Linked DNA regions of Homo sapiens. The main gene of each other region encodes a partner of the protein of the gene in region 2 in a complex. Each region holds a gene or a part of one and is shown on either strand. Other genes may lie near its edges. The genes, in order: DNAJB13, DYDC1, LRRC23 and NME5.

The links.
Region 1: DYDC1 (region 2) and DNAJB13 share a complex: the UniProt entries of both Homo sapiens proteins name them as parts of the axonemal radial spoke complex.
Region 3: DYDC1 (region 2) and LRRC23 share a complex: the UniProt entries of both Homo sapiens proteins name them as parts of the axonemal radial spoke complex.
Region 4: DYDC1 (region 2) and NME5 share a complex: the UniProt entries of both Homo sapiens proteins name them as parts of the axonemal radial spoke complex.

The regions. Positions count from the first base shown.
Region 1 is NC_000011.10:73,960,003-73,968,676, reverse strand, and holds part of DNAJB13 (dnaJ homolog subfamily B member 13), read right to left. Parts: intron 7,170-8,674; coding exon of another isoform or gene 6,949-7,169; exon of another isoform or gene 6,814-6,948; intron 3,800-6,813; coding exon 3,642-3,799; intron 3,633-3,641; exon of another isoform or gene 3,341-3,632; coding exon of another isoform or gene 3,272-3,340; intron 2,540-3,271; coding exon 2,426-2,539; intron 739-2,425; coding exon of another isoform or gene 706-738; exon of another isoform or gene 333-705; coding exon 219-332; intron 1-218. UniProt on the Homo sapiens protein: Functions as part of axonemal radial spoke complexes that play an important part in the motility of sperm and cilia.
Region 2 is NC_000010.11:80,334,674-80,340,498, forward strand, and holds the end of DYDC1 (DPY30 domain-containing protein 1), read right to left. Parts: intron 4,481-5,825; coding exon 4,424-4,480; intron 3,899-4,423; coding exon 3,794-3,898; coding exon of another isoform or gene 3,743-3,793; exon of another isoform or gene 1,513-3,742; coding exon 1,483-1,512; 3' UTR 1,432-1,482; downstream 1-1,431. UniProt on the Homo sapiens protein: Functions as part of axonemal radial spoke complexes that play an important part in the motility of sperm and cilia. Plays a crucial role during acrosome biogenesis.
Region 3 is NC_000012.12:6,906,749-6,915,330, reverse strand, and holds the end of LRRC23 (leucine-rich repeat-containing protein 23), read right to left. Parts: intron 8,017-8,582; coding exon 7,886-8,016; intron 5,442-7,885; coding exon 5,305-5,441; intron 2,602-5,304; coding exon 2,328-2,601; 3' UTR 2,304-2,327; intron 1,441-2,303; coding exon of another isoform or gene 1,260-1,440; 3' UTR 1,102-1,259; downstream 1-1,101. UniProt on the Homo sapiens protein: Essential for sperm motility and male fertility. Plays an important role in the proper assembly of the third radial spoke (RS3) head and the bridge structure between RS2 and RS3 in the sperm flagella.
Region 4 is NC_000005.10:138,114,513-138,123,186, forward strand, and holds the end of NME5 (nucleoside diphosphate kinase homolog 5), read right to left. Parts: intron 4,425-8,674; coding exon 4,306-4,424; intron 2,091-4,305; coding exon of another isoform or gene 1,809-2,090; exon of another isoform or gene 1,253-1,808; coding exon 1,169-1,252; 3' UTR 663-1,168; downstream 1-662. UniProt on the Homo sapiens protein: Functions as part of axonemal radial spoke complexes that play an important part in the motility of sperm and cilia. Does not seem to have nucleoside diphosphate kinase (NDPK) activity.

The DNA.
Region 1 (8,674 bases), on a different chromosome or scaffold from region 2:
AGAAGTGGGGAGGAAGGCCTGCTGCGCAGATCTGGTGTACAGATCCAGGCGGTGCAGATGAGCAGACGGGACCAAGTGGATGGTGATTTAGAGGGTGGAATCCACAGGGCTTAGTGACTGATGGCAGGTGGTTGTGGGAGGGGAGGCCAAGTCTAGGCCGGGGCAGGCAGGGCTCACTCTGATCTCCTCCCCGCTGCTCCTGCACTTTGCCCACTCACCTTGCCAAGAGGGATGGGGTTCACGAAGAAGAGGTTGTCATTCTCCCTGCGGAAGCGAGGGTGTAGCTTCTCCTTTACGATGAAAATGATGTCTGCTGGGATGATGTTGGGGCCCTGGGCAGGGGACGCCAAAAGGTGACAAGGACTAGTTGGCCGTGTGACCTTGGCCAAGTTCCTGCCTCTACTTGTCTCCATGTCTTCATCTGTACAATGGGGAGATGAGAGCAGGTTTTCTGGAAGGGCCTTTTCAGTTTGGCCCCCATAGCCCAGATGGATTAGAAGCCCGAGAAGCTTACCCAAATGAATCCCCCCAGAATTACTTCTGTACTGAGCATGCCCAAAATAGACACACTCAGCTGGAGGGGCGGAGAGGCTTCCTCAGACGGCAGGCAGGTGGAACACTAAGCTGGGCGTCAGGCAACTGCCCGTATGTCTCTGTCTTGCTAGTAACTCCAGGCATGACACCCCTGTCCCAAACTTCATTAAGTCACCAAAACTCTGCTGAGGTCTCTTCTGGGCGCTGGGGACAGAGGAATCAGACTGGCCCCTAACACTGACAGTGAATCCTCAGCACGCTCAAGACATGATAAAGGGAGGCCCAGAGGCTGGGGCTCAGAGGAGGCTGCCCAGAGCGGGGAACACTGGAGCTGGGTTTTGAAGCGTGTTTATTCGAAGTAGATGTTTTATTTGTATTTTGTCTGTTTGTTTTGTTTTTAGACAGGATCTCGCTCTGTTGCCCAGGCTGAAGTGCAGTGGCATGATCATACTTCACTGCAGCCTTGACCTCCTCGGCTCAAAAGATCCTCCTGCCTCAGTCTCCTGAGTATCTGGGACCACAGGCACACACTACCATGCCCAGCTAAATTTTTTATTTTTAGTAGAGACAAGGTCTCGCTATGTTGCCCAGACTGGTCTCAAACTTCTGAGCTCAAGTGATTCTCCTGCCTTGGCCTCCCAAAGTGCTGAGGCTATAAGTGTGAGCCACCAGGCCAGACCGGAGGTAGATGTTTCATAGGTGAGAAAGGGGGCAAAAAGTGCAGGCAAAGGAATGTGTCTTCCCTGGCTCTGAATGCCTCTTCTCAGGACTTAAGGATTCAGCACGCCTTGGACAATAAATTTATGTTTTTATTTAAATAGTATTTAATTTAAAATTATTATTAATAGGCCAGGCACGGTGGCTCACACCTTTAATCCCAGGCACTTTGGGAGGCCGAGGCAGGCGTATCACCTGAGGTCAGGATTTCGAGGCCAGTCTGGCCAACACGGAGAAACCCTATCTCTATAAAAATACAAAAATTAGCTGGGTGGCTGGGCGCAGTGGCTCACGCCTGTAATCCCAGCACTTTGGGAGGCCGAGACAGGTGGATCACCTGAGGTCAGGAGTTCAAGACCAGCCTGGCCAACATGGTGAAACCCCGTCTCTACTAAAAATACAAAAATTAGTCGGGTGTGGTGGTGCATGCCTGCAATCCCAGCTACTGGGGAAGCTGAGGCAGCAGAATAACTTGAACCCGGGAGGCGGAGTTTGCAGTGAGCTGAGATCGCACCACTGCCTTCCAGCCTGGGTAACAGAGCGAGACTCTGTCTCAAAAAAAAAAAAAAAAAAAAAAAAATTAGCTGGGCGTGGTGGCACATGCCTGTAGTCCCAGCTACTCAGGAGGCTGGGGCAGGATAATTGCTTGAATCCAGGAGGTGGAGGCTGCAATGAGCTGAAATCATGCCACCTCACTCCAGCCTGGGCGACAGTGAGACTCCATCTCAAAATAAAAATAAATAAATAAATAAATACATAAATAAATAAAATTATTATGATTAAATGGTTTCTGAGTAGCTCCTGTAATTGGGCTTTATTCTGAGAAGCACTGAAGAAAATCAGGAAAACACTGGAGTTCAGACTGGGATCTCCTTTCAGCTCCCATGTTCTTGCCCTGGGCAAGTCCCTTTCTTCTCTGGGCCCCCATTTCCCACTCTGTAAAATGGGGACAGTCCCTGGGCTGCCTGTTCACAGAAGCACTGTAAGGCTAAGGCTCTGTTCCTTGGAAGGAACATTAGGGATCCCATCTCACCCACTCTGCAGACTGGGCTCTCTACAGACCAAGGCTCACAGGGGCAGGAAAAAGTATTGCCTCCTTTCCCTTCCTTTCCTCCTCAGTCTTCCCACCGCCTGAGCTCAGTGACTGACCTGAGTCAGCTTCTTCCCCCCTCACCTGGTCCCCTTCCTTCTCAAAGGTGATGCGTGTGCCCTGCCTCCAACCGGGCTTCACATCAATGGTCAGGATCTTGTCCTTGATGGTGGAGGAGTACCCATCCTCGTTCAGCACCTATAGCAACATATCAGGTGTGGGGAGGTCTGCTTAGGACTTCCATGAGTACAGTCGAGATTTGCTCAGATTTTCATGAACACTCAGGTGACCTTTGCACACGTGAAAGATGCTCTATGGGATTTGTACTTGGGCTCAATCCTCTAGCAATGGGAAGAGCCTCCAGCAATGGGGAGAGCCTGCCCTGAGCCACTCCCACTCCCATCCTGTTGCCATGACAACCAAGAACTTATGATTCCAGTATGGCAGAGGATGCCATGAGACTGGGGCTGGGGGCTGAGATGCCAAGCAGTCACCATTAGTTGATCAAACACACAGCTCCAGCCCTGGCCACTAACAGATACATGGTGAAAATGTACTCCATTCCTCTCTCCAAATCCCAGAGGCCCGGCCCTGAGCCTCCAGCAAGTCTCTTAATCCCAAAGAGAGAAATGAAAGTCAACATATCTAAGCCTCCCCCAGTGCATTCCCCACTGGGGATCCTTCCACTCCCCAGTCGCATGTCCAGATGGGTTCCATCTGTGGAAAGCATGGCCGCATCGGCATCTCCTCTGCTGGGCAAAGGTGGAGGGGGCTTGCTCTTATGCCTGGCACAGGGCTGGGCCATGGGACAGGGCCAAGCCAAGGACTAGACATGAGGCACTGAGGGTCTTCCTCAACCCGTCACCTTGGGGACTATCTCCCAGCCCACCCTCCATGCCCACTGTTCTTTCTTATGCACGAGGCATGCACCCTGATGAAATCCTGGGAATATGGTCTGGTAAAGCCCAGAAGGAAGAATTCAGAAGAGACTCCTCCCATTCAGAGCCTTTCCAGTTCCCACGGGGATGGGGCTGAACTGAAAGAAAGGAAGGGAAAGAGCCTGTCCCAGTTGGGAAGGCTGCAGAGGGCACTCCTGCACTAGGAAAGAACCGGGCTAATGTCTTCAACTGTCCCTTCCGAATTTCAGATTCCGGAATTCTAACATCCTAGGTCTCTGAATCTAAGGTTCCATAATTCCATCAGAGACCATCCCTGAGTCCTCCCACCCAGGTAAGGGAGGAGGCAGCTGCTAGGCTGCAGGAGATAGGTGGCTCCCGGGAGGAGCAAGCTGAGTACTCACCCTTCTGGAGATCTTAATTTTTTTGGTGCAGCCAAAGAATAAGTCCTCCAGGGACAGGTAGAGATCCCGTTCGACTTGGGGGTCCTGCTTCTTGACCCCTCGGCCCTGGAGCCCCCCAAAGTTCAAATCTACCTCACTTCCTTCTGCATCAAAAAACTCTGCAGGAGGTAGGGAGAGGAGTAAGAGAAATTGTATCCAGAGACCCAGACATGCGCGCGCGCGCACACACACACACACACACACACACACACACACACACACACACACACAGCCTCCCTATCCAGATATGCTCCCCAACCTCTTCAGTGTCCTGTGTAACACCCAGCATCCTATAACCACCTCTCAGACTGGCCAAGCCAAGGAGCTGTCTTCAACTGCAGATGCAGTGATTATCATCCTTTGCCATTTCCCACTGCTTCACCTCCCCTTGGGACATTCCCCCCCCACCCCGCCCAACGCTTCCCCGTCTCTCTTATTCACAACTCGGATACCGTAACTCTGGCTGTCTCAGGAAAGGGAGGCACTCCCTCTGGTGGCCGCGCTCAGGAGTGCCAGAAGAGACTGCTGGTAGTCCTCGGCAGGAAGGTGAGAGCCTGCCAGTCCTCTCTACTCTTCCCCAGACTCCATAACCCTTCGCTGTCCAGCCCAGCCCAAGATTGCTAAAGACCCCAGACTCAAGTTTCTATAAAGCTGTCAGCTGAGATGGGGGAGGGAAAGGGTTGGTCCCTAACAATTTGAGAGGCCACCGGCATTCCCCAAACTCCTCTTTCCTCAATTTCTTTTGCCCCTGCCCAGCTCTGCACCCATAACCCCTCTTGCTGCCCCCATCCTTCCTCCCAGTGCAAAGACAGCCCCATCCTGGCTCTGCCCCTGATGTGCTGTGTGATCCGTGGGCTTCAGTGTCTTGGTCTGTGGGATGGGGTAATAATGCCTGACCTGCCTTCCACCATTAAGATGAAGAGCTAAAACTTGCTGAGAGCTTACTATGCGTCAGGTGCTATTTTTGGAACCTTACATTATTATTTCATTGGTCCAGGGAGCCCAAACAAAACGCTTAAGGTCCCGTAGCTAGTAAGCAGTAGAGTTGGGATCTGAACCACAGGACAATATGACTACGGAACCTGTGTCCTTAACCACTGTGCCACGCCGCATCGCTAGATGTGGAAGCCCCTCATAAGCTGTAAACTCGAGGGGCGCTATGGTTAAGAGTTTTCATATTCTGCCTCTCATGGTTAATGCCATGGAATGAACTTCACAGGCTAGAATGGTGAAATGACCTTAGGCAGGGATGGTGAGGTGACTACACTATGTCCCTCTAAGATGCGATGGGCAATCAAGAGGCCTGAATCTTCTGGTCCTCCTGTTGCATTGCTGAATTCACTTGTTCACCCAGACCTACAGTGTACCAGGCAGTAAACACCCCAATAGCCAGTCCACAGGAAGCCCAGCCCCTCAACCCTGCAGGGAGATGGGACTCAGGAACCCTTGGGGTGGAGCACTATGGCAGTATAGCTTCTGGGCACTGCCTGAGGAAGCCCAGACCCTGAGCCTGACCTTTCCCAATGAGCGATGCCCTGTAGACTCACTTGGCTCCTTTGAACTGAGACAGGTAGGGAGGCAAGGTCCACTGTATGGCATTTTTGGACTGCAAAGCCCCTTTCATTTTTTTTCTTTTTTCTTTTTTTTTTTTGAGACAGAGTCTCAATCTTGTTGCCCAGGCTGGAGTGCAATGGCGCAATCTCGGCTCACCACAACCTCCACCTCCTCGGTTCAAGCGATTCTCCTACCTCAGCCTCCTAAGTGGCTGGGATTGCAGGCATGCACCACTGTGCCTGGCTTTGTTTTTTTGTTTTTGTTTGTTTGTTTGTTTTTAGTAGAGATGGGTTTTCTCCATGGTGGTCAGGCTGGTCTTGAACTGCCGACCTCAAGTGATCCGCCGGCCTCAGCCTCCTGAAGTGCTGGGATTACAGGTGTGAGCCACCATGCCCGGCCGATTGCAAAGCCCCTTTTCATAAACATTATCTCATCTGATAATAGCCCTTGAGCCTTAATGATTATTTTGGCTATGTAATGGTTAGGAAGCTGGGGTTTCAGAGGGGTGAAGAAATTTTCCCAGGATCACACGGTTCACAAATGGCAGCGCATGGATTGGAAACAGGCCCGCTACTCGAAGCCCCTTGCTGTTTTCAGTCTCACGTGGAGCTTATAAACTCAGCTTCTTCTGGCAGACACGTGAGGGTGGCACAAGGTGGGAGCAATCTCTGAGGCAGAGGGGCTGTAACCCACATATTGGCACAGAAAAGAGAAGGAAAGAACTTATGAAGTTCAGAAAGGCTGAAGTATAGTCAGGGAGAAGGGGCAAGAGGTGTAGGAGAAAACAGGCAGTGAAAAATCTAGGCCTTATGTGGGTATAACTGGAGCCAGGAAGTCAGGTGTGAAGGTCTTTTCACTGCCTTTGCAAGATGATTCTGAGCCTCAGAAATCAACTCTTGGTCAGTTTGTCTCAGACCTGGAATCACGCACCCATCCACCTACTCAGCCATCCTTCCGCCTACCCAGCCATCCATCCGCCTACCCAGCCATCCATTCATTTACCCAGCCATCCGTCCGCCTACCCACCCACCCACCCACCATGTGCTCGTCTATTCATTCATACACCCACTCATCCATTCATCCATCTGTCCTTCCTTCATTTCATGCATCCACCCATCCACACTCACTCTTGTCAGATGCTAGGCTGGGATTTGGCTACGCTGAGATCAATCAGACCTGGAGGATCTCCCAGTCTGGTAGGGAGACAAGCATATTAGGGAAACTATAAATAGCACAAGAACTGTTTTAACTGCAAAAGAGACAAGAGGTATCTTCCCACAAATACAATATTAGCAAAAGACTGGGAAGAAACTACCCATCAATAAGACAGTAATTAAAAATAATAAATTAGACCTGGCATGGTGGCTCATGCCTATAATCCCAGCACTTTGGGAGGATGACGCAGGCGGATCACCTGAGGTCAGGAGTTCAAAACCAGCCTGGCCAGTCTTGAGTGGAAACCCCATCTCTACTCAAAATACAAAAATTAGCCAGGCATTCTGGTGCCCACCTGTAATCCCAGCTACTCGGGTGGCTGAGGCAGGAGAATCGCTTGAACCCAGGAGGCAGAGGTTGCAGTGAGCCAAGATTGTGCCACTGCACTCCAGCCTGGGCAACAGAGCAAGACTTTAATAATAATAAATTATAAAACATCCATGGTAGCCATGCTGGCACTTGGCATCTGCTCTGTCCTCCTTCTTGCATACCTTCCCTGCTAGAGAATCTGTAGAGCCAAAAGGAACATCCCCCAGACTCTCTTGCAGCTAAGGTTCTGGCTTTGAATTCTGTTCATCAGGTAGTTCCTGAGCTGCTTGGGAGGCAGGAAGAAGGCGGCAGGCATCTCTCCGTGGCTCTGTCTGGAGCTGGTGGGCACTGTTGTGGAGACACTAGGTTTTTCTGCAGCAGCCTTTGTGGGTCCACCCACGAGTTTCATGCCTGTCAGAGGCAAGTGAGGCAGCAGTTGCAGCTACATTCATGGTGTGCTCTGGAATGCAACGGTGACATTTCCTGATTCCTTCTTTGTGACTGTGGCAGAGACAGCAGCTCTCCTTGTGGGCCAGTTTAGAGGTGGTGTTCTTGGAAGATTTCCTACAGGGCCAGCTTACAGCCTTCTCACCCAGGCCTTTCAATGATTATTTCTTTATTTATGTATTTTATTTTTTTGAGACAAGGTCTCAATCTGTCACCCAGGCTGGAGTGCAGTGGCCCGATCTTGGCTCACTGCAGCCTCAACCTCCTGGGCTCAGGCGATTCTCCCACCTCAGCCTCCTGAGTAGCTGGAACTACAGATACACACCACCATTCCTGGCACATTTTTTTGTAGAGATGGGGTTTGGCTATGTTGCCCAGGTTGGCACCGAATTCCTACACTCAAGCAATCCAGCCACCTCAGCCTCCCAAAGTGCTGGGATTATAGGAGTGAGCCACCACACCTGGCCTCGGTGATTTTTTAAAGCACCTAATTCCCTGTTTTGAACCCCTTTCTGCTTCACGTGGCTAAAACAGTATTTGCTTCTGCAATGGATCCCTAATAGACATCTGTACAATGAAATCTTATGCAGATCTGTACATAGTATATAGATTTGCATGTAAGTGAATAAAGTAGATCTATATATAGTATAACATATAAGATAATCTCCAAGATATATTAAGTGAAAAAAAAAATCATTGTGTAAAATTTGGCCCTATTTCCTTAATAAAAGGCTTCTGTAAAAATAAATACAGCTCATACAAGCATGGCAAGTTTCTGGAAGGATACATAAACTGTTTACTAATAGCTGCTTCCCTAGTAGCTGCTTCTGAGGAAGAAAATGGAGGGCTCGGCCAGACACGGTGGCTCATGCCTGTAATCCCAGCACTTTGGGAGGCCGAGGTGGGCAGATCACCTGAGGTCAGGAGTTCAAGACCAGCCTGGCCAACATGGCGAAACCCTGTCTCTACTCTATGAAAAATACAAAAATTAGCTGGGCGTGGTGACTCACACCTGTAATCCCAGCACTTTGGGAGGCAGAGGTGGGCAGATCAGCTGAGGTCAGGAGTTCAAGACCAGCCTGGCAGACATGGTGAAACCACGTCTCTACTAAAAAATATAAAATTATTAGCTGGGTGTGGTGGTGGGTGCCTGTAATCCCAGCTACTCAGGAGGCTGAGGCAGGGAGAACTGCTTGAACCCCGGAGGCGGAGGTTGCAGTGAGCAGAGATCATGCCACTGCACTCCAGCCTGGGTGACAGAACAGGACTCCATCTAAAAAATAAAAATAAAAAAGAAAGAAAGAAAAAGAAAATGGAGGGCTGGAATGTATTTCTTTTTCAATGAATTCTGTTTTACTTTTTCTTTTGCAATGTGTTTTATATATATTTATTAAAGTAAAAATAGGCCGGGCACGGTGGCTCATGCCTGTAATCCTAGCACTTTGGGAGGCCAAGGCCTTAGGCAGATT
Region 2 (5,825 bases):
CCATAACTAACCCACTTCTGTGACAATGGCATTCATCCATGTATGAGGGCAGAGCCCTCATGACCTAATCACCTCTTAAAGGTCTTACCTCTCAACACAGTTGTATTTGGGAAGGGAGGGGGACACGTTCAAACGATAGCACCATTTAGGCAAAAGGACCACTCTGTACTCATTGCCTCAGGAAAAGTACATTATAAGCCAAAATAGAATTTTTTTTTAAAGGAGCCTCTCTTGGTATTTGCGTTTTCGCACCTATGTCCTTAAGAATAGAAAGGACTCACATCACAGATTTGGAAGAATTTTGTAAAGGAAGTAAGGTTCTCTGCAGAGTCTAAGGATAGAACTGAAACTTCAAAGGGGCCAGGAGTGTGTGGCCTGTATTCAGTCAGATCTTCTCACCAACAGTTGCCCCAATATTTGAGCCCACTGATTGAGCCAGAAGACATGATACTTCTTTGCACCCCAGAACTTTGTTTCATCCCATTCAATTCACTCTATGTGAACACATCCTGCAATATCCCTAGACTTTATAAACCCCAAAGAGGAAGACAGGAATCCGGACGCCCAGCTGGGCAGAAAGGTGAGGAAGGGAAAGTCCTCATATCTGTTCCTGGCTGTGGAGGAACAAGCTAAGCTGGAGGAAACTCCCCCACCAGGACAGTGATGAAACACTTCTTCCCCCTTAAACACCATCATATAAGTGTGGCTTAAGTGGTTCTATGAAGCATCAGCTCCCAGCAAACTGGGGAGAGCTCTGCAGTTCACACCCAGGAGGAGACACCACATCTAGAGCATGTTGCACACCCTCCTGAGCCCTACACAATGGCCACCTCACTCACTTCTCACGGACCAGCAACTTTCTTTTCTTTTTTTCTTTTTTTTTTCTTGAGACGGAGTCTCACTCTTGTCACCCAGGCTGCAGTGCAGTGGTATGATCTTGGCTCACTGCAACCTCTGCTTCCTGGGTTCCAGTGATTCTCCTGCCTCAGCCTCCTAAGTAGCTGGGATTACAGATGCCCACCACCACGCCCGGCTAATTTTCTTTTGTATTTTTAGTAGAGACGGGGTTTCACCATGTTGGCCACACTGGTCTCAAACTCCTGACCTCAAGTGATCCACCTGCCTTGGCCTCCCAAATCGCTGGATTACAGGTGTGAGCCACTGCACCCAGCCAGCAACTGTCCTCTCAGGCAGTCTTGCTCTTGCATAGACGCACATATTAGTTCAGCTCACCTCCCATTTGCCTCTTTTGGTTGCTTCAGCAAACTCTCCTATTTTCCCAATGGAAATGTATAAATAACCAGTTGAACTGAAGGATCCAAAATAATAATTTGAGGCTACTCTTGAAGCCCATTCATAAGCAGTCCTTAGAGGAAAAAAAAAGGGGAGTTCAAGTTTGAAGGAAAAAAATACAAATTGGGAACCTCATGGTTTGAAATTTGAAACAAACAAAAACATTTATTGCTCTTAGGTTGGTTGGTCCTACAAATCTTGATCAATGTTTAATGCAATCTAAAAGCAAAACAAAAAGTAAATATTCCTTAATACAATTAGAACTGTGAAAAGGCACAAGCCAAAGAAATAAACTTTAGGTAACTTCTATGTGACTACATGAATGAAACTTTTTGGGAGTTTCAGATGATTTCAAATGATACTCAAATTGAATATAACCATAAATTATGTTCTCAAAGTAGTTATTGTTCCATCCTTTCTTCTACTTCTCTTACTATGCATTCTCATCCTTCTTGTAGGCTCCTCTTCCTGTGGCCATCCCTTCAATGTTAGAATTGCTAATGGTTCCTCCCTGAGCCCCCAGGCCTTCACACACTGCACTCTCTCCTAGGTACCTTACTCAATCCCCTTGCTTCATTCAGCACATATGCCCATGACTGCTGAATTTATATCTCCGGCCTGGGCCCCTTCCTAACATCAACTGTTCTTGGCTGTTTTCACCTGCATATCTCAGAGCCACCTGAGAGTCAACATCTCTGCAACTGAAGCCATCATTTTTTAAAAACCTGCTTCCTCTTATGTTCATCAACTCATCAAATGTTAACACTCTTAACTCAGTAGCCCAAGGAAGACATTTAGGCTTCATCCTGACCCTGCCCCGCACTGATCCTGTAAGCCAATCTTAAATCCACTCAGTTCCCTCCATCTCTGCTGTCTAACCCTAGTCATCTTACATCTGGATCAGTGCAATAACTTCCTAAGTGGTCTCCCTTTTTCCACTCCTGCTCCACACCAATCCTCTCTCCACCTTATAAAAACACAGATTGAATCTTTAAGTCCTTTCAATAACTCCTACTGCACTTAAGTCCAAAATCCCTAAGGCAACATACAAGACCCAGTGTGCTCTGCCTTTATCCACCTCTCCAGCTTAAAATCACACCATTTTCCTAGCTCCATGGACGTTAGCCATTAATACTGGATGACTTCAGTCCCTTGAAAGCATTTTGCTGTCTCTTTCCTCTGGGCTCATCTCAGGCTAATTCCTTGAACTTCACCTCCTGAGGAAGACTTGTCCAGCCCAGGTCAGGTCTCTCCCTACTCTGTCCCTCAAAGAAGCTTCCCCATTGGCCCACGGCCCCCAAGGGCAGAAGCCCAATCCATTTTGTTCATTGGCATTTTCTAGCTCCCTGCATAGTGCCAAATCATAGCTGACCTTTAATAAAACTTTAAACAATTAGCACTGAGTCTGTGCAGCTCCATTTTCTGAACAGCTCTTGAAAACAACATTTACTTCAGGCCATCGACATCTTGTCCCCTAGATTACTACCTCCTAAGCCATCTCCTGACACCTACTTCTCCATTTTCTTCCCCACACTGTTACCAGATGGTCTTTGCAAAATGTAGCTCTCATCATATGAGTCTCCACTGCCTTCAGGATAAAATCTAAGCCTCTGAACAGAAATGACAAGTGCTTTCATGGTCTGGCCCCTGCTTTCTCCCTGGCCTCAGCTCTCACCCCTCCCTGCCTCACTCCCTCTACACGCTCTCCTATCTGGGTCTTCACACCTTCCATGCTCTCTGCCTGGAGCACTATCCTCAGCCTCCCATGCCACCAGTGAGTAGCAAATCATTAGCTTCCTTCCCTGACTGAGGTTCCTCAACTGTGCTGGCTGTCCCCCCTTGTCCGTGTACACCAATTAAAGTGACCAAAATGTACCCTTCTTCCAGGACAGTCCTGGCTTACATCTGCTGATCCGGCTCTCATTCTCAAAAGCATACTGGTTTGGACAATAAATTATGTGGTCCCACTAACCATGACTATTAAATGTTCATCTAATTGTCTGTTTCTCCCCTGACAATAAACTCCATAAGGTCAAAGCCATCTGCCTTATTCACCACAGCATCAGGCACAGTGCCTGGCATATGGAAGATGTGGCATGTTTCTTAAATAAACAAATGTACTTACATACTGGAGAAGCATGCATTCTCATTAAGGCATTAATTTGGTTCCAGGGTTTGCTACTGAGAACAAAAATCGTGCCCCCCACACCAAATTTAAAGATTATATATTTCACAAAATGATTTTAAAACATATTTTGAAGAGGTTTTGAAGTCACAGATACGGAGATATAGATAAGCCAGTGACACACTTCACAAAAGGGCAGAATGCCAATTAGGAATATAATCCGCAACCAGGGAACTGATTTTCTTTCTCTGAAGCAAAAGGCCTATTTGCCAACCAATCCTGGCCTAGCCTCATTTTCCCTAGGCTTTACCTAAGTAAAAAAAATCAAAAACAAAAACAAAAACGAGTTTTTTCACAAAACACACTGATACTGACATCAGAAAACATTGGTTCATCAAGTTCTTCCACTCTGCTCAAGTTAGGTGCTCCATAACGATCGCTGATTTCAGCTAGTGTTTTGCCTGAGTCTAGTGTTGCTTCCTACAATCAAAAAATTGATTTTTACTTTTAAATGATTTCAAAATTAATACATTACTTTTCTTTCAATTTTGATTAAAAATTTTCTGATTTATAACATTAAAATTCAACATTATTAATTAGTGGAATTAACCAATTTCTGTTAATGACAAGAGAATTCTGGTAATGAATTGAGTATCCTAGAATGCAAAGCTACAATTCTGGTAATAAATACTAGAACTTTTTTTAAAAATACCTGCAGAAATTTAAAATAATTGTAAGTAATTATGTGGTAAATAGCTTCAATATCTCAAGAGAGCCTAGTTTTTAAAAATCCAAACACAAACTGAATGTCCAATTTTTACCTATTGTGAGATTTTGCTTCAAAGCACATTATTTGTGACTTGTTATCACCGGAAAATATACATGGACTATCAGTTTTGATAATATACTTGCTAAAAATTTAGCTACTTATGCATCAAAATTAAGCTTTACATTCTAGGATACTCAATTCATTTCACATAACATAGAATGACTTTTTCTTCTCACCTCTGAATGTAGAATATCTTCATTCCTAACTAGATTTTCCATATTCATTCTCATCTCCTATAATATATAAAAATTAAGAAAATACTTTGAATATACTCCATTTTGATTTCATGTTTAATTTTTGGCATTTTTACTTTTACACAATGCTATGATGAATTTAAAGCAAAAATGCTGTCACTCTGAAAGAGAATGATCTGATTACACATTACAAAACTGCAGATCACAGTCTTATTTAATACTCTATACTAATAGAAGGCAACCATGTTTTATATATAATTAAATAAAAGTTTTTTAAAAATGAAATGGACTGAAACAGTCAAACTGAAGCCAAATTATCTGCCAATATAAAAAGTGACAAAATAAAAATTATAATAGAACCTTAGAACAAGAGATTTTTAAGGAGAAAACCACACTTAAGTAGAGTTTTGCACATACCGAGAAAGAAGTAAACACTTCTACAGGAACTAATCTGGCCCAATGCACAAGTCCTCCCACAGGACCTGAGCAATGCCCTCTTTAATACTCTGAGCACTGCAGTAGGAATATACTGCCCAATAAGGGAGGCCTCTTTCTGAATGTGAAACATTCTTCTAGTCAGCCAAACCTTGCTATGCCATCTACCTTTTCATTCTAAAGCAGCAGGGTGGCCTAACTGACCCTGAGCTGATTCGTTTTGGCTGCTAGAAGACCAGTGATTTCTTGATCATACATATGGTCACCCTAATGATAGGGACATAAACAGCACTGTTTTCCCAAGACCACTCCATTTTCCTGGTAACTTCTTATCCAGCATCCACAAGGCTATATGGGGAACATCCATATTCTTATAGGACTATGCTCCCCTGCCACAGAGATGGATATTTGACACAAACTAAGCCAGTCAGAATCCTTCTCCAAGATTCTTTTCTTAACTGAAACTAAAACAAGGCATCCATTCCTCTTAGATGGTAGAAGCCACAACATTCTAAGCCTCAGAAGCCGTTAAGGCCCATGTTCCCTACCCATGTGCAGCAAAGCAGCCCATAGTGAAAGAGCGAAACTAATAACCAGGGAGCAGCAGAGGGGAGAGCCCTGGTAGCATCTGATTCTCTTGCTCCCAAAGTCTGAAAGGCCCAGTGATACCAGAGTCCTTCACAGTTTATGTGTTAAACCCTTCCTTCAACCCAGAATCCTTCTAGCAAACTTCCCTTTGCACATGATAGTTTACATTGCGAGTCTGCAGCCATAAGAAGGCCAAGGGAAAGCACATGAGTGGACTCATCTCTGAGCAATGGGCGAGGGAGTGGTACTTTGCAGGGGACTACCTATGCTATGGTGAGGGATGATAAGCCTATAGAAATAGGAATTACTAAAGTTATTCTGGCAGTGGTCACACAAGCTGATGATGTCTGGAGATAGTAAA
Region 3 (8,582 bases), on a different chromosome or scaffold from region 2:
CCCACTCTCTCCCAAACGTGTATCCCTCCTCTTCCCGCGAAAGGCGCATGCAATACAGGTGTCGGGGAAGAGGGTCCTGAGAAAGGCCCTGCAGTCCCTGGGGGTTGCAGCGGGAAGTGAAGAGGATAAGAGCCGGTGGGGAGTGGAGGCGAGCTGGGCCTGTCCTCCCCTCTGCGCCTCGACAGATCCCCACTTCTTCCATCTCTCCCCCGTGCAGCAGAGGGGAGGAAGCGCGAACGGAGAGGGGCGCCGTGGGGAAGAGCAGGAGAGAGGGGAGTCCAAGGGAAGTCTGGGGGAGGTGAGGAACGGTGAGAGAAGACATTTCCCCAAATGCAAACCAAAAGGGACGCTCTAGGATAAAAATGCACCGCCCGGAGAGGCTCCCAACTTAGAAACAAATAGAACCGTAGATGAGGGCGAGCACCGGGAGAGAGGCAGGCAAGGGTGGAGAGGCGCAGTTAGAGATAGGCGCGCAGAGGGCCAGAAAGCGAAGGCAGCGGGCGGGGAAGGCCAGGGAGGGAAGGCGCCCTGGGCGCGGGCGGCGGAGCAGGTGCGCAGCTGCACCGGGCCAGAGATGCGGAGAGGTGCGCAGCGGCACCGGGTAAAGGAGGCAGGGGCGCCGCGGCGAAGGGAGGGGGCCACAGGGGCTCTGGGCCTGGCGGGGGCTTCACCTCGGGACTGCAGACTCAGACGGTGGTAGTGGCGGTGGCGGTGGCGGTGGCGACGGCGGCGCTGAGAGAGCGGGAGTGGCAGTGGCGGCGGCGGCTGCGGCTCCCGGGCGGCGGGCGGAGGAGGCGCCTATAGGGCCGCGCGGGCGCATGTGACCCGGAGCCCCCGATGAGTCAGGAGCTGCCGGCGGAGGCGCACGTACGAGCGCGGGTGGGGGACCGACGAGGGTGGAGTGGGGAAGGGAGGAGGATGGGGGAAGGGTGGGGGCACCCACGACCTGGCCCCAGCGCACACAAGCGCTCATACCCACGGCCCGACCCACTCGACAGTAACAGGCAGAGCCGCACCCCTGTAGCCCGGGTACGAAGGCCCACACTGCCAGTGAAGCCCAAGACAGCCTCAATGTCTCACAAACCCGGTCAGACACAGGAGCATCACTCTGTTTCTTTATTGGAAATCCGAACACCCCAGCCGCCTTCGCAAGTCTCTCCAACCACTCCTACCAGCACCCCGCGGCCCACGCGGTCTTGGCTCTCACCCACGCCTGCCCGAGGGCGGCCCCCGGCCTAGGCTCCAGGCAACGCTCAGGCCTAGGCACCCCATTCTGCACCCCACACTGCCCAGAGGACCGGCACAGAGCAGATCCTGGGCCTCAGGTTGTGATGAATTTCCAGCTTTGGGGCAAAAACAGGCATCCTCTGTTCTCTGTCATACATGTGGTGGCTGCCCCTGGGAGTCTGATCAGGTCTGAAGGCCAGCGTCTTTGATCTCCTGGAGGTAGAAGACAGAAGTAAATAGGGACCAGGCGCTGTGGCTCACCCCTGTAATCCCAGCACTTTGGAAGGCGGAGGCGGGCAGATCACGAGGTCAGGAGATCCAGACCATCCTGGCTAACGTGGTGAAACCCCGTTTCTACTAAAAATACAAAAATTAGCCAGGCGCGGTTGCATGCGCCTGTAGTCCCAGCTACTCGGGAGGCTGAGGCAGGAGAATTGCTTGAACCCAGGAGGTGGAAGTTGCAGTGAGCTGAGATTGTGCCACTGCACTCCAGCCTGGAGACTAAGCAAGACTACCTCGCAAAAAAAAAAAAAAAAAAAAAAAAAAAACAAACAGAGGTAAATAAAGCCTCTCCCCTATCTAAAGTGCCTGGCGGCCACCCTCATCTCTTCAGTCTCTTTTTGCCTCACTCTGCCCTCTTTTCTTCCCCCATCTCTGTGTCCTGTTTTTAGCTTCAGATTTTTTGTGCTGGATCTTCCTCTCCTGCTTCTCTCCTAGGTCCAGCTGCATACACCACCAACTTTCCCCTGCAGCCCCTACCATGCACCCACACCTGTCCTTTCCTAGCCGACTTCACTCTGTGTCAGGTATGGCTGCCCCACCCCCCACCAACTCCTCTGCCTGCCACCCCAATTCTTTTCACTTACTCTTCTGGCCTCCTAAGTCTTTCTCAGCTGGTCCCAGGCCCCTTGGGTCCCTTTTCCTCTCCCTGACTCCTAACCCTCCTCTCTTTAAGGGTCCTGCTTGTCTGATGCTTTCCTCTCCCACCTCCTTCTGCAGCAGCTTCCCCTCTTGCCTCTTCCCCTACCTGCCCAGCCCTTGGCCTCCTCCCACTGCCTCCCTGCAGGCTTCCTTACTATCTTTAGAGGCTAGAACTGCTGCTAGATCAATGACTGTTCGGGTTCCAGGTCACGCTGGGGCTCAGGCTCCTGCTCCTTTTCTTCCTTCAGCCTCTGTCGAATCACATCAGCCTCAGCCCGTTCCTCCTCCTCATAGAATTCCTTGTCCAGGCGTTCAAGGTATGGCATCTGCACCAGGGCCTCCTGGCGGTAGCTGGTTTCGTCCGTGCATGGGTTATCAAGCAGCACCAACGCTCGCAGCTTGGGCAGGTCTCGAAGCTTGGCCAGCTCCCCCAGGTTGGCCACCATGTTGCCCCTGCCAGTGTGGTCAGGAGGGGTTCATGCAGGAATAATGGGCTTTGGTTGCCAGTTGCTAGGAATGGGGCCTCTGGGGGACTCTCGGGGTTCCAGTGTCCCTAGAAACACTGTGAGGACTGGCCTGCCAAGCCTTGCCAGATTTACTGCAGAGGTGCTGTGTGACCCCGCTCTGGTCCTGCTTCTGCCCTTCAAGGAATCCCTAAGTGCCATATTCTACTCTGTAATACATTCATGTGTTCTTTTGGTGCAGCAAAGCTAGGCCACAACCCTGTCTTGTAGCTGGGGAGGAGAGGGCAAATTTTCCTCACAGGGAGAGACATTTTCTGTGATCACACCTAAATGGAGGGTAGAAGGTAGGACCCAGCCTGGGCAACATAGCGAGACCCCATCTGTACAAAAGCTAAAAATAAAAAAATTAGCTGGGCGTGATGGCATACACCTGTAGTCCTTGCTACTTAGCTGAGGAGGAGGGATTGCTTGACCCCAGGAGTTTGAGATTACAGTGAGCCGAGATCGAGCCACTGCACTCCACCCTGTAGGACCTAGGTCAGTGGACAAGGAACTGGGATCTAAGCTGGAGTTTAGGGTGGTGGATGCTCGGTTCGTGCTCTCCACAAAGAGAACCTAAGGCTATGGATGGGTTGGAGCCTCCCAACCTGAAGAATAAACTTCATCTCCTAATGTGCCTCATTATATGATACTCTGTTTTTATTTTATTTTTATTGAGACAGGGTCTCACTATGTCACCCCGGTTGGGGGTGCAGTGGCATGATCATAGCTCACTGCAGCCTTGAATTCCTGGGCTCAAGTGATCCTCTCACCTTAGCTTCCTAAGTACCTCCAGGCATGTGCCACCACACCTGGCTAATGTTTAAATTTTTTGTAGAGACTGGGTCTCACTATGTTGCCCAGGTTTGTCTTGAACGCCTGGCCTCAAGCAGTCCTCTTGCCTTGGCCCCCCCAAAGTGCTGGGATTACAGGCGTGAGCCACCATGCCTGGAATTTTATTTATTTTCATGTTCTGGCTTTAAGCTTTTATGAAATCTATTTAAGTGTTTCAGCCTGATCTCATGGTCGTGCTGAGCCTCATGCAGTGTTTCTCACCAGGAGGGCTACAGGAACTTTGTACTGGACTCTGCCATACATTGTTGGATGCTTAGCATCTCTGGCCCCAGAGGCACCTGCCAATCATTGAGACACCCTCACCCCCCTCCACACACACACCCGACTTACTCTCAAAACATCCCCATTTAATAGCCACTCAGGAAGGGTCCATCATGCCTGTCTAGATCATTAACAGGAAGATGGCACAGATACACACCCCACCAGATCCGTGTGGCAGAGTTCATGAATAAGAGAATGCCCAGGGGGTCAGGATGAGAGTTGGGGCTTCCAGATGCAACCACCTCTCCCTACTTGGAGATGCTCTTTCCATTACCAGCTCAAGAATCTGGTCTTGTTGACTAAGGAAAGAGGCAGTTTCCTTACATGTTTGCTGAAATAAACACACATAAAGTCCTCCATCCGACAAGAGTTGCTGATCTTCAGTGCCTTTCTACCAAAAGATTTTCTTACAAATGTCCTTCTCTCCTCAAATCTGAGCACATCTTGTGTTTTTTTAATCAGTAAAAAGGTCATCCCTTACAGGTGGGGCTCAGGAGAAGAGAGGCAGGAAATGGGAAGGTGAATTGGGACCGAGGAAATGGAGAAGGGCAGTGGAAACTTATATAGGATAGGGTGAGGAAAAAAGAGTTGGAGCCAGACTGTGAGCCCCTTAGGAACAGGAATCACCTCTGATTCCTTTCTTTCTTTTAGAGACAGCTCACTCTGTCACCCAGGCTGGAGTGCAGTGGCACAATCATGGCTCACTGCAACCTTGAACTCCTGGGCTCAAGTGATCCTCCAACCTCAGCCTCCTGAGTAGCTGAAACCACAGGTGTGCACCACCAGGCTCAGTTAATTTTTATTTTTAATTTAATATTTTAATTTTTATTTAATATTTTATTTTTGTTTTGTTTTTGAGGCAGGGTCTGGCTCTGTCACCCAGGCTGGAGTGCAGCGGCTTTATCTCAGCTCACTGCAAACTCCACCTCGAGGCTCCAGCGATCCTCCCGCCTAAGTCTCCTGAGTAGCTGGGATTACAGGTGCCTGTCACCATGCCTGGCTAATTTTTGTATTTTTGGTAGAGATGGGATTTTGCCATGTTGCCCAGACTGGTCTTGAACTCCTAGGCTCCAACGATCTGCCCACTTCGGCTTCCCAAAGTGCTAGAACTACAGGTGTGAGCCACCATGCCGGGCCATTATTTTCACTTCTGTAGAAACATGGTCTCACTAGGTTGCCCAGGCTGGTCCTGAACTCCTGGCCTCAAGTGATCCTTCCTCCTAAAGTGCTGGGAGTACAGGCATGAACCACCATGCCCAGCCTCTGATTGCTTTAAATGTCCCCAAAACACAGCACAAGGCCTGGCACATAGCACATTCTCAATAATTGTGGATTGAATGAATAAAAATTCAGGGGTCACAAGCTATAAGGGATTTAGTGTTGCAACTCAGTGCAGAAGAAAGGAAGGAAAGCCGGGCTTTCCTTGAGAATCCAGCTGTGGGCTAGGACTGGGGGATTGGGCCAGGGAAGAACACAGACTCAAAAGCTGCACCTGGTCAGGGGTAGGGGCAAGGTGGGGCTTGGAGAGGGTGCATACCTCAGGTTGAGGTACTGCAATGATTTCATTTCTCTGGAGAAGCCACTCAGGGTGTCAATCTGGTTGTCTCGAAGATGCAAGGTGGTGAGATTGCTCAGATCCTCCAAGCCTTCCACCTTCTTCAGCATGTTTTGGGCCTAGACCCCCAGGGCACAGTGGATTGATTGAGAGGGAGCAGGGATAGGGAAGAAAGAGAAGTCAGAATGAGATAAAGCAAAAGAGGAAATCCAAGAGGTAGAGAGGGAGGAGTGGAAGAAAGGAGTGGGGGTGAGTAGAGATCAGTATAGAAAGTAAAGAAGTTCAGGAGAAGCTGCCATCCCAGAGAAAGGTCAGCAGTAACCCTCTACCATTCGCCCCATCAAAGCCACTTGGGATGGAGGAGATGCTTCAACCCACCCCTACCCGGCCCAGGAGCCCCCAGGCCACCACTGAGGATTGGCATCAGCACCATCCCAGAATAACGAAGCTTAAGAGTCTAAAAGACTAAATATTTCAGTGGCTTCCTGTGGAGTTATTATATATATAATATATAATATATTATATAATATATAAAATATATATTATATATTATATATTATATACTATTATATATAATATTTATATATTATATATAATATACTATTATATATAATATTTATATATTATATAAAATATATTATATATAATATACTATTATATATATTTATATATTATATATATTATATATAATATATACTATTATATATATTTATGTATTATATATAATTATATATAATATATTATATATAATTATATATAATATATAATTATATATTATATCTAATTATATATATTATATATAATTATATATTATATATAATATATAATTATATATTATATATTTTATATATAATATATAATATATAATATATAATTATATATTATATATTATATGTAATTATATATTATATATAATATATAATTATATAATATATAATATATATTTATATATAATATATAATTATATAATATATAATATATATATCGGTTTTCATCCACAGTCCCTAGCTTATAACCCCCATAATAGCCCTTCTTGCAGTCTTTTGTTATAAAGTTGGGTGTGCTGGGCCTCAGGGGCAGGTCTCAGGAACTTCTCCAGCCGTCTTTTCACCTGCTCCAAGAGAAAGCGCTAATCTTTCCCCCCACTCCCTCTTTCTGACTGTGATTCTTTCTTTTTTTTTTTTTGAAACAGAGTCTAGCTCTGTTGCCCAGGCTGGAGTGCAGTGGCGCAATCTCGGCTCACTGCAAGCCCCGCCTCCTGGGTTCACGCCATTCTCCTGCCTCAGCCTCCCGAGTAGCTGGGACTACAGGTGCCTGCCACCACACGCAGCTAATTTTTTTTTTTTGTATTTTTAGTAGAGACGGGGTTTCACCGTGTTTTTCTTTGGTTTTTTTTTTTTTTTTTTTTTTTTGAGATGGAGTCTTGCTCTGTCTCCCAGGCTGGATTGCAGTGGCGTGATCTCAGCTCACTGCAAACTCTGCCTTCTGGGTTCAAGCCATTCTGCTGCCTCAGCCTCCCTAGTAGCTGGGATTACAGGCGCATGTCAGCACACTGGGCTAATTTTTGTATTTTTAGTAGAGACAGAGTTTCGCCATGTTGGCCAGGCTGGTTTCGAACTCCGGACCTCAGGTGATCCGCCCGCCTCAGCCTCCCAAAGTGCTGGGATTACAGACATGAGCCACCGCGCCCGGCCTGATTGTGGTTCTTAAGACCCTCCCCAGCGACAGCCTCCCCAGTTTCCTGGGGGAAGGAATACTAAGATCATGAAGCTTCCATGAAAAGCCAAGAGGACTGGGTCCAGAGAGCTTCTGGGTAGCTGAACACGTGAAAGCTTTTGGAGGGTGATGCATCTGGGAAGGGCATGGAGCACTGCACCCATATCCCCATACTTCGCCCTAAGCATCTCTTCATCTGTATCCTTTGCCCTTGCAATAAACTAATAAAAACCACTCTAGAAAATTAATTAAATCCAGAGAAGAGGTCATGGGAACCAGCTTCATGTTGAAGCTGGTGTGTCAGAAGTTCTGGAGGCTTGGACTTGCAACTGGTGTATGTGGGCGGTGTAGGGGTCACTCTTGGGAACCGAGCCCTCAATCTGTGGGATTTGATGCCATCCCCAGGTAGACAGTGAATCGAATTAGAGATCACCCAGCTGGTGTCTACTACTTGGTGTATGGGGAGAAACCCCCACACCTTTGGTCCCGGAAGTCGTATGTTGATGATTGTTGTGGTGGTAGTGTAAGAGCTGAAGAAAAACCCAGTCTGAGAGGAGGGTTTTCCTAAAACATTTCCACAGACTGATGTTTGTACCTCAATTATGGTCCATTTTGCTACTACCTGTATCAAGGTAAATTATCTCTGTATTATCCACACATTATATATTATCAGCCCTGCTAGGTGGCTGTGTATCTCCACAGCATCTGGAACCAACTATGGTCTTGATAATAATACCAGTTATTATCATAATGATGAAGTTAGTAGCTGAGCCTACTAGAAAGCAGGCATCCTGACCCCCAGGACAGTGCCCTCTTCCCTGCACCACCCTCTGACCCAGTGAGCTACCAGGTAGAGGTTCTTCAGCTTAGGAAGATTGATTCCCAGGGTGCTTTCCAGCTGGTTCCCCCGAAGCTCCACTGTGTGCAGGCTGATCAACTTCTCGGGGTCCAGACCTGTCACCATGTGGATGCTGTTCCCTGGGGAGGAGGGTTTCAAGAGCTCAAAGGGCCACTCCAAATGCTCAGCATTAGAGCCTGAATTTGGGGAGCCTCTAAATCATCCTACCATTCGCAAAGCAGGGTAGATACTGAGGAAGGCCAGCTCCAGACTTAATACCTCTGGAGCCCTGAGGCAAGTGGTGTGGTAGGTAGTCCAAGGTCCTGATGGACATATCCACCTAAGCCTTTGAAGAGTGAATGAAGCAGCTGACATGTCTAATTCCCTCTCCTTCTTCAATTCTTTGCTCAAATGTCATCTTCTCAGTGATGGTTGTCCTAACCAATCTATTTGACATTGCCACCTGTGTCCCCCATTCCTCTTACTCTGATCTATTTTTTCCAAGGCACTTGTCTCCTTTTAACATGCTACATGAATGTACTTACTGTGTTTGTTGTTACTTGTTTGTCTCTCCCAATTAGAATATAAGCTATATGAGAATAGGGACGTTCCTTGTCTTATTGGATCCTATATGGTTAGCATGTAGAACTGTCATAATGAATCATATTGCGTATCTGAATGAATGAATGAATGCAGACTGCCATGT
Region 4 (8,674 bases), on a different chromosome or scaffold from region 2:
CACTTTGGGAGGGCGAAGCAGGAGGATTGCTTGAGCCCAGGAGTTTGAGACCAGCCTGGGCAACATAGCGGGACCCTATCTTATTAAAACAAACAAAAAAAACCAAAACCAAACCAAAACCAAATGGGCGTACACTGTGCATATTGCTTTGTAACATACTTTTTTTCAGCTAACAATCTTTCTGTTTTCACATTTTCTTACATTATACTTTCTTTTCTCTTTTTTTTTTTTTTTTTTTTTGAGACAGAGTCTCGCTCTGTCACCCAGGCTGGAGGGCAGTGGTGCGATCTCGGCTCACTGCAAGCTCCGCCCCCTGGGTTCACGCCATTCTCCTGCCTCAGCCTCCCGAGTAGCTGGGAATACAGGCGCCGCCACTACGCCCGGCTAATTGTTTGTATATTTAGTAGAGACGGGGTTTCACCGTGTTAGCCAGGATGGTCTCGATCTCCTGACCTCGTGATCCACCCGCCTCGGCCTCCCAAAGTGCTGGGATTAGAGGCGTGAGCCACCAAGACCGGCCGTGATTGTGGTTTTTGCCATTGTTTTTTAATGACAAAAACCATAATTGCTTTTGCACCAGCCTAATAGTTATCCAAGTGATTAGTTTAAGATCATCCCCTGGTTCTGGCCATTTTCATTGTACCAAAAAATTACTTATATACTTACACCTTTCTATTTTTTATTTTTTACATCAAACAGGTAATGTGATGATGCTGTAACAAGGTTTGAGGGAAGCATATCTGACACATGAGCATGAAACCAAATCACCATGCTTATGGACTACAAAAGGACCTAAGCCTTTTAAACTAGACTGTCTCAACTGTGCATTAATTATGTATTTAGATATAGGATATGTGCTTGGGAAAATGTATAACTAAACTTTATGTCTTACTTCTCAAACTTAAGAAAAACAAAAACATCTAGCAACATCTTACATGAGTTTTCCATTACCTAGTGTTACATCATTGTTAAAATCATACTCTAAGCCTATATTTTACCTTAATGTTATCTGCTTCATAGAATAGTTATTCCTTTAACACTTATTTTTAAGAAATAAATTTATTTTACTTGTAGTTACTTAAACCCTAGAAATAATTTTTTCAAACAGTAGAAGTACAGCCTTTTATAATAAGATAGTTCATGATTTGTTCTTTCGAGGATTTTTTTTTTAATAAGGTTCTTCTACAATTGGATGGTGACAAAGTTTGGGTTTGTTAGGATTATTTTTCAGCAGCCAATCAGCTAGCCAAATCTATGGGAAAAAAAAAAACAACCTAAGTTAAGAAACAGTTACATATTTCCTTTCAATATATACTATATCAATTGGAAACTTAAACAGTTTTCAAAATCACTTTAAGAAAATGACCATTAAAAATGGAAACATTTGGATTTACATTATGCAAGATTGTCAAGAATAGATCCAAACTGGCAAGAAAGAAGTAAAACTATCTCTTTTCACAGATGGCATAAACCTACATGTGGAAAACCCTAAGGAATTTACAAGGAAGCCACTACAGCTAATAAATTCAGCGAAGATGTAGGTTACAATACACAAAAATCAACTGTATTTCTATACATCAGCAATGACAGTCCAAAAAAAAATTTTAAATCACTTTCATTTACAGTAGCATAAAGACAAATAAAATGCCAAGGGATAAATTTAACCCAAGAAGCGAAAGGCTTATACATTAAGAACTGTAGAACATTGCTGAAAGAAATTAAAGAATACCTAAATAAATGAGAAGACATTATTTTTCATGGATACGGAGATTTGATATTGTTAAGATGTCAATACTTCCCAAAGCAATCTACAGATTCAGTGCAGCTCTTGCCAAATGTCCAACAAGTTTTTTTGCAGAAATGGAAAGCCAATCCTCAAATTCATATGAAATTGCAAGGGGCTCTGAGGAGCCAAAACAATCATGAAAAAGAACAAAGTTGGAGGACTGATTTGTACTCTCAATTTCAAAACCTTCTACAAAGCTACAGTAGTCAGCACAGTGTGGTAATGACATCCTTATGCCAGACATGCAGACCAATAGAATGGACCTGAGAGTCCAGTGCTCTCTTCGGCAGCACATATACCAAAACTGGAATGATACAGAGAGATTATTAGCATGGCTCCTGTGCAAGGATGATGCACAATTTATTAAGCATTTCATATTTTAAAAAAAGAATGAGAATCCAGGAATAAACCCACGCATCTATGGTCAACAAATTTTTGACAATGGTACCAAGCCCATTGGTACCACTGGACTTGGAGAAAGAACAGTCTCTTCAACAGATGGTACTAGGACAATTGGATTTCCACATGCAAATGAATAAAGTTGGACCCCTATACCACACCATATACAAAAATGAACTCACAATGGACCAATGACCTAAATATAAGAGCTTAAACAATAAACATCTTAAAAGAGGCCAGTGACTCACACCTGTGATCCCAATACTTTTGGAGGCCGAGGTAGGAAGATCACTTGAGACCAGGAGTTCAAGACCAGCCTGGGCAACATAGGGAGACCCCATCTCTACAAAAAATTTTAAAAATTAGCTGGGTGTGGTAGTGTGCTCCTGTGGTCCCAGCTACTTGGCAGCCTGGTGCACAAGAATCACTTGAACTCAGGAGGCAGAGGTTGAAGTGAGCCGAGATGGCGCCACCAGACTCCAGCATGGGGAACAAAGACCCTGTCTCAAAAAAAAAAAAAAAAAAAAAAGGAAAGAAAAAAAATCTTAAAAGAAAACATAAAACACAGGGGTAAATTTTCATGACCTTGGATTTGGATTTCACAATGGATTCTTAGACATGACATCAAAAGCACAAGAAATAAAAGAAAAAATAAATAAATTGGATTTCATCAAATGAAAAATGTTTATACATTAAAGGACATTATCAAGAAAGTGAAAAGACAACCTACAAAATGGAAGACAATATTTGCAAATCATATATCTAATAAGGGTTTAACATCTAGAAATACAAAGAACTTTAACTCAACAAAAAGACAACCCAGTTTAAAAATGGGCAAAGGACTTCAATTTGAATAGACATTTCTTCAAAGAAGGTATACAAATGGCCAAGAAGCTCATGAAAAGATGTTCAACATTAGCCATTAGGGAAATGCAGATCAAAACCACCGTGAGAAACCATTTTGTGTTATCTACTAGCATGGCTACAAAAAAAAAGAAAGATAGGTCGGGCGCGGTGGCTCACACCTGCAATCCCAGCACTTTGGGAGGCCAAGGCAGGTGGATCACCTGAGGTCAGGAGTTCGAGACCAGCCTGGCCAACATGAAGAAACCCTGTCTCTACTAAAAATACAAAAATTACCCGGGCGTGGTGGTGTTCGCCTGTAAATCCCAGCTACTCAGGAGGCTGAGGCAGGAGAATCACTTGAACCTGGGGGGCGGAGGTTGCAGTGAGCCCAGATTGCGCCTCTGCATTCCAGCCTGGGCAACAGAGTGAGACTCCGTCTCAAAAAATAATAATAATAAATAAATAAAACACAGCAAGAAAATAATAAGTAATCAATAATTATACATATCTAACATGTATATGAAATACCTTCTAGAAATGTTTATTTTAAAAAGGTTCTCAATATTTGCAGTATTTCATTTATTTACTTATTTATTTTTTGAGATGGAGTCTCGCTCTGTTGCCCAGGCTGGAGTGCAGTGGCACAATCTCGGCTCACTGCAAGCTCCGCCTCCTGGGTTCACGCCATTCTCCTGCCTCAGCCTCCCAAGTAGCTGGGACTACAGGCACCCACCACCACGCCCGGCTAATTTTTTATATTTTTAGTAGAGATGGGGTTTCACCGTGTTAGCCAGGATGGTCTTGATCTCCTGACCTAGTGATCCACCCACCTCGGCCTCCCAAAGTGCTGGGATAATAGGCGTGAGCCACTGCGCCCAGCTATATTCGCAGTATTTCAAAGACACAATGTCTTAAACGTGAAAACTACAGACAATTTATAGAAAAAAAAATTTTTTTTTTGAGATGGAGTCTTGCTCTGTCACCCAGGCTGGAGTGCAGTGGCACAATCTCGGCTCACTGCAACCTCTGCCTCTGGGTTCAAGTGATTCTCCTGCCTCAGCCTCCTGAGTAGCTGGGATTACAGGCACATGCCACCACGCCCAGCTAATTTTTGTATTTTTAGTACAGACGGGGTTTCACCATGTTAGTCAGGCTGGTCTCAAACTCCTGACCTCGGATCCGCCCGCCTTGGCCTCCCAAAGTGCTGGGATTACAGGCATGAGCCACCACGCCTGGTGACAATATTCTTAAGTGTGAATAAAAATATTTCTTACCAAAGGATCTGCTGGTTTTTGCTTACAAAGCTCTGTGAGTCCTTCAAGCAGAGTTGGCATTATATGTAAATTTAAATAGTCCTTAGCAGCTTGTCCAATTGGAATGGGCTCAACAATCACTGCAAATACAAATGTATTCTCATTGATGCAAACATAATGATTAAATACTATACAATCATTAAAAAGGTTCTTTTTAAAGAACTTTTCTCTATTTTTTTATATGTTTTTTTGAGATGGAGTCTTACTCTGTTGCCTGGGCTGGAGTGCAATGATGCAATCTCAGATCACTGCAACCTCCTCCTGGGTTCATGTGATTCTCCCACCTCAGCCTTCCGAGTAGCTGGGACTACAGGTCCGCATCACCACACCCTGCTAATTTTTGTATTTTTATTTATTTTTATTTTTTGAGACAGAGTCTCGCTTTGTTGCCCAGGCTGGAATGCAGTGGCACAATCTCAGCTCACTGCAACCTCCAACTCCTGAGTTCAAGTGATTCTCCTGCCTCAGCCTCCTAAGTAGACAGGAGTGTGCCACCATGCCTGGCTAATTTTTGTACGTTGAGTAGAGGCAGGGTTTCACCATGTCGGCCAGGCTGGTCTCAAACTCCTGATCTAAGGTAATCCTCCTGTCTCGGCCTCCCAAAGTGCTAGGATTGCGGGCATGAGCCACCATGCTCGGCCCTAATTTCTGTATTTTTAGTAGAGATGGGGTTTCACCATGTTGGCCAGGCTGGTCTTGAACTCCTAACGTCAAATAATCTGCCTGCCTCAGCCTGCCAAAGTGCTGAGATTACAGGCATGAGCCACTGCAACCAGCCTGTTTTCTTTTTCTTTTCTTTTCTTTATTTTTTTTTTTTTGAGACAGAGTTTCACTCTTGTCACCCAGGCTGGAGTGCAGCAGCACAATCTCAGTTCACTGCAACCCCGTCTCCCAGGTTGAAGCAATTCTCCTGCCTCAGCCTCCTGAGTAGAACCAGCCTCAGTTTTCAGTTGGGATGTTTCTCTTATTATTTAGACATAGGAGTTCTTTATATATTCTAGTTACAAGTTCTTTATATTATTTGGTGATATTTTTTCCCAGTCTGTTGCCTACCTATCTTTTCATATTTTTAAAAATTTAACTTCTATTTTTTTTTTTGACACAGGGTCTTGCTCCGTTGCCCAGTCTGGAGTGTGGTGGTGTGAGCACAGCTCACTGCAGCCTCGAACTCCTGGGCTGAAGCATCCTCTGGCTTCAGCCTTCCAAGTAGCTGGGCCTGCAAGTGTGTGCCACCACACCCAGCTTTTTTTTTCTTTAAGTGTTTAGAGACAGGGTGTCACTCACGCTGGTCTCAAACTCCTGGCCTCAAGCAATCCTCCCACCTCAGCCTCCTGAATAGCTGGATTTACAGGTGCAAACCACTGCTCCCAGCTCTTTTTTTTTTTTTTTTTTTTTTGAGACAGAGTCTTTCTCTGTCGCCAGGCTGGAGTGCAGTGCCGCGATCTTGGCTCACTGCAAGCTCCGCCTCCTGGGTTCACGCCATTCTCCTGCCTCAGCCTTCTGAGTAGCTGGGACTACAGGTGCCCGCCACTAATTAGTCCGGCTAATTTTTTTGTATTTTTTAGTAGAGACGGGGTTTCACCATGTTAGCCAGGATGGTCTTGATATCCTGACCTTGTGAGCCGCCTGCCTCGGCCTCCCAAAGTGCTGGGATTACAGGCATGAGCCACCGCGCCCAGCCTCTTTTCACATTCTTAATGATGTCCTTTGAAGCACAAAAGCTTTTAATTTGATTTAGTCCAATTTATCAATATTTTCTTTTATGGATCTTGCTTTTGATGTCATTTTAAGAAGTCTTTGTCCAACTCCAGTTACAAAGATTTTCTTGTTTTCTTTTAGATGTTTTTACATTGAAGTCTGTGATCCATTTTGAGTTAATTTTTGTGTATGCTATGAAACAAGGGTCTAAGTTCTTTTTGTTTTTATGTGACTATCATGCTGTCCTAGCACCATATACAGACTTTCCTCAATTTACATGGGTTACATCCCAATAAACCCATCATAAGTTGAAAGTATCAGTAAGTCAAAAACACATTTAATACACCTAGCCTATTGAACATCATAGCATAGCATAGCCTACTTTAAATGTGCTCAGAACACTTACATTAGCCTACAGTTGGGCAAAATCATCTAACACAAAGCAAATTTTATATAAATAACATTTTCTATATAATATACATATATTATGAGCTGGGCACAGTGGTTCACACTTGTAGTCCTAGCTCCTTGAGAGGCTGAGGCAGTAGGATTACCTGAAGCCATGAGTTTGAGACCATCTGGGCAACAAAGCAAGACTCTGTCTCTTAAAAAAAAAAGATATATATATATATCATTTTTGGGGGAGGATCTCTTGAGGCCAGGAGTTCAATACCAGCCTGGGCAATATGGCGAGACTGCCTTTCTACAACAAAAAAATTCAAAAAGTAGCCAGGCATGGTGGTCTATGCCTCTAGTCTCAGCTACTCAGGAGGCTAAGGTGGGAGAATGCTTGAGCCCAGGAGGTCAGGCTGTAGTGGGCACCACTGCACTTCAGCCTGGGTGACAGAGAGACACCCTGTCTCAAAAAAAAAGGAAACCAAAATAGAATGGTTGTATGGATACTCGCCATTAATGTACACAGCTGAAAGCACCATAGTAAAGTCAAAAAACTGTAACTTGAACCATGGTAAGTTGGGGACTGTATTGGCAAGACCATCCTTTTCTCACTGAATTGTCTAGGCACCTTTGTTGAAAGTGAATTGACCATAAGTGTAAAAGTTTACTTCTAGATCCTCAATTCTGTTCCAATAATCTATATGTGTATCTTTATATCACTGTCATACCGTCTTATAATTGTGGCTTTGCAGTAAGTTTCAAAATCAGATAGTGGAAGTCTTCCAACTTTGTTCTTCTTTTCTAAAATTGAATTATTTGCAATTTTGCTAAATTTTAAACTCAGCTTGTCAATGTCTACGTAAAAGTATGCATGGACTTTTAAAAGGATTACATTAAAATTTTCTTTAAATTTTTTTTTTCTTGTAGAGATGAGGTCTCACTTTGTTGCCCAGGCTGGTCTCCTACTCCTAGACTGAAGCAATCCTTCTGCCTCAGCCTCCCAAAGTGTTGAGATTACAGGAATGAGCCACTGCACCCAACCCAAAACTGTTAATTAATTTAGAAAGAATTGCCATCTTAACAATATTGAGTCTTCCAATCCATTAATATGGAATATCTATTATTTATTTTAAAATTTATCTCAGCAATGTTCTTTGTTTTTCAGTGTACAAGAATTGCACTTTCATTAAATTTATGCTTAAATATGGCCGGGCGTGGTGGCTCACACCTGTAATCCCAGCACTTTGGGAGGCCAAGGCGGGTGGATCACCTGAAGTCAGGAGTTTGAGACCAGCCTGCCCAACGTGGCGAAACCCTGTCTCTACTAAAAATACAAAAAATTAGCTGGGCGTGGTGGTGGGCGCCTGTAATCCCAGCTACTCGGGAGGCTGAAGCAGGAGAATCGCTTGAACCCAGGAGGCAGAGGTTGCAGTGAGTTGAGATCGGGCCACTGCACTCCAGCCTGGGTGACAAGAGCGAAACTCTGTCTCTAAAAAAAAAAAAAAAAAAAAAAAAAAAATTGTGCCTAAATATTATATTATTTTTAATGTCATTGTGAATGGAATTTTCCTTTTTACAGCTTTATTGAAGTATTACTCATGTACACAAAATTGCACACAATTAATGTATACAATTTTTTCTCAATATGGGCAAATGTTTTATTCATATATTATATAAAGTTCATTATGCCAATTTATCAGGTACTAATCATTAAACAAAAATTTTTTTAATTTTTTTTTTTTTTTGAGACATGGTCTTGCTCTGTTGCCCAGGCTGGAGTGCAGTGGTGCGATCTCGGTTCACTGCAACCTCTGCCTCCTGGGTTCAAGCAATTCTCCTGCCTCAGCCTCCTGAGTAGCTGGGATTACAGATGCATGCCACTATGCCAGGCTAATTTTTTTTTATTTTTAGCAGAGATGGGGTTTCACTATGTTGGCTAGTCTGGTCTCGAACTCCTGACCTCAAGTGATCTGCCCATGTCAGGCTCCCAAAGTGCTGGGATTACAGGCATGAGCCACCACCCCTGGTCCCCCAAATTTTTTTTAACTTATAAGTGTACTTAAAATTTCTTTTTATTTTAAAAGCATGTCATCCTTGCATAGGGGCCAAGCTAATCTTCTCTGTATCGTTCCAATTTTAGCATATGTGCTGAAGTGAGCACAACAAATTTTTTAATAGATAAGAAATATTGTATACATTTATTGTGTACATGTTGTTTTGAAATATGTAAACACTA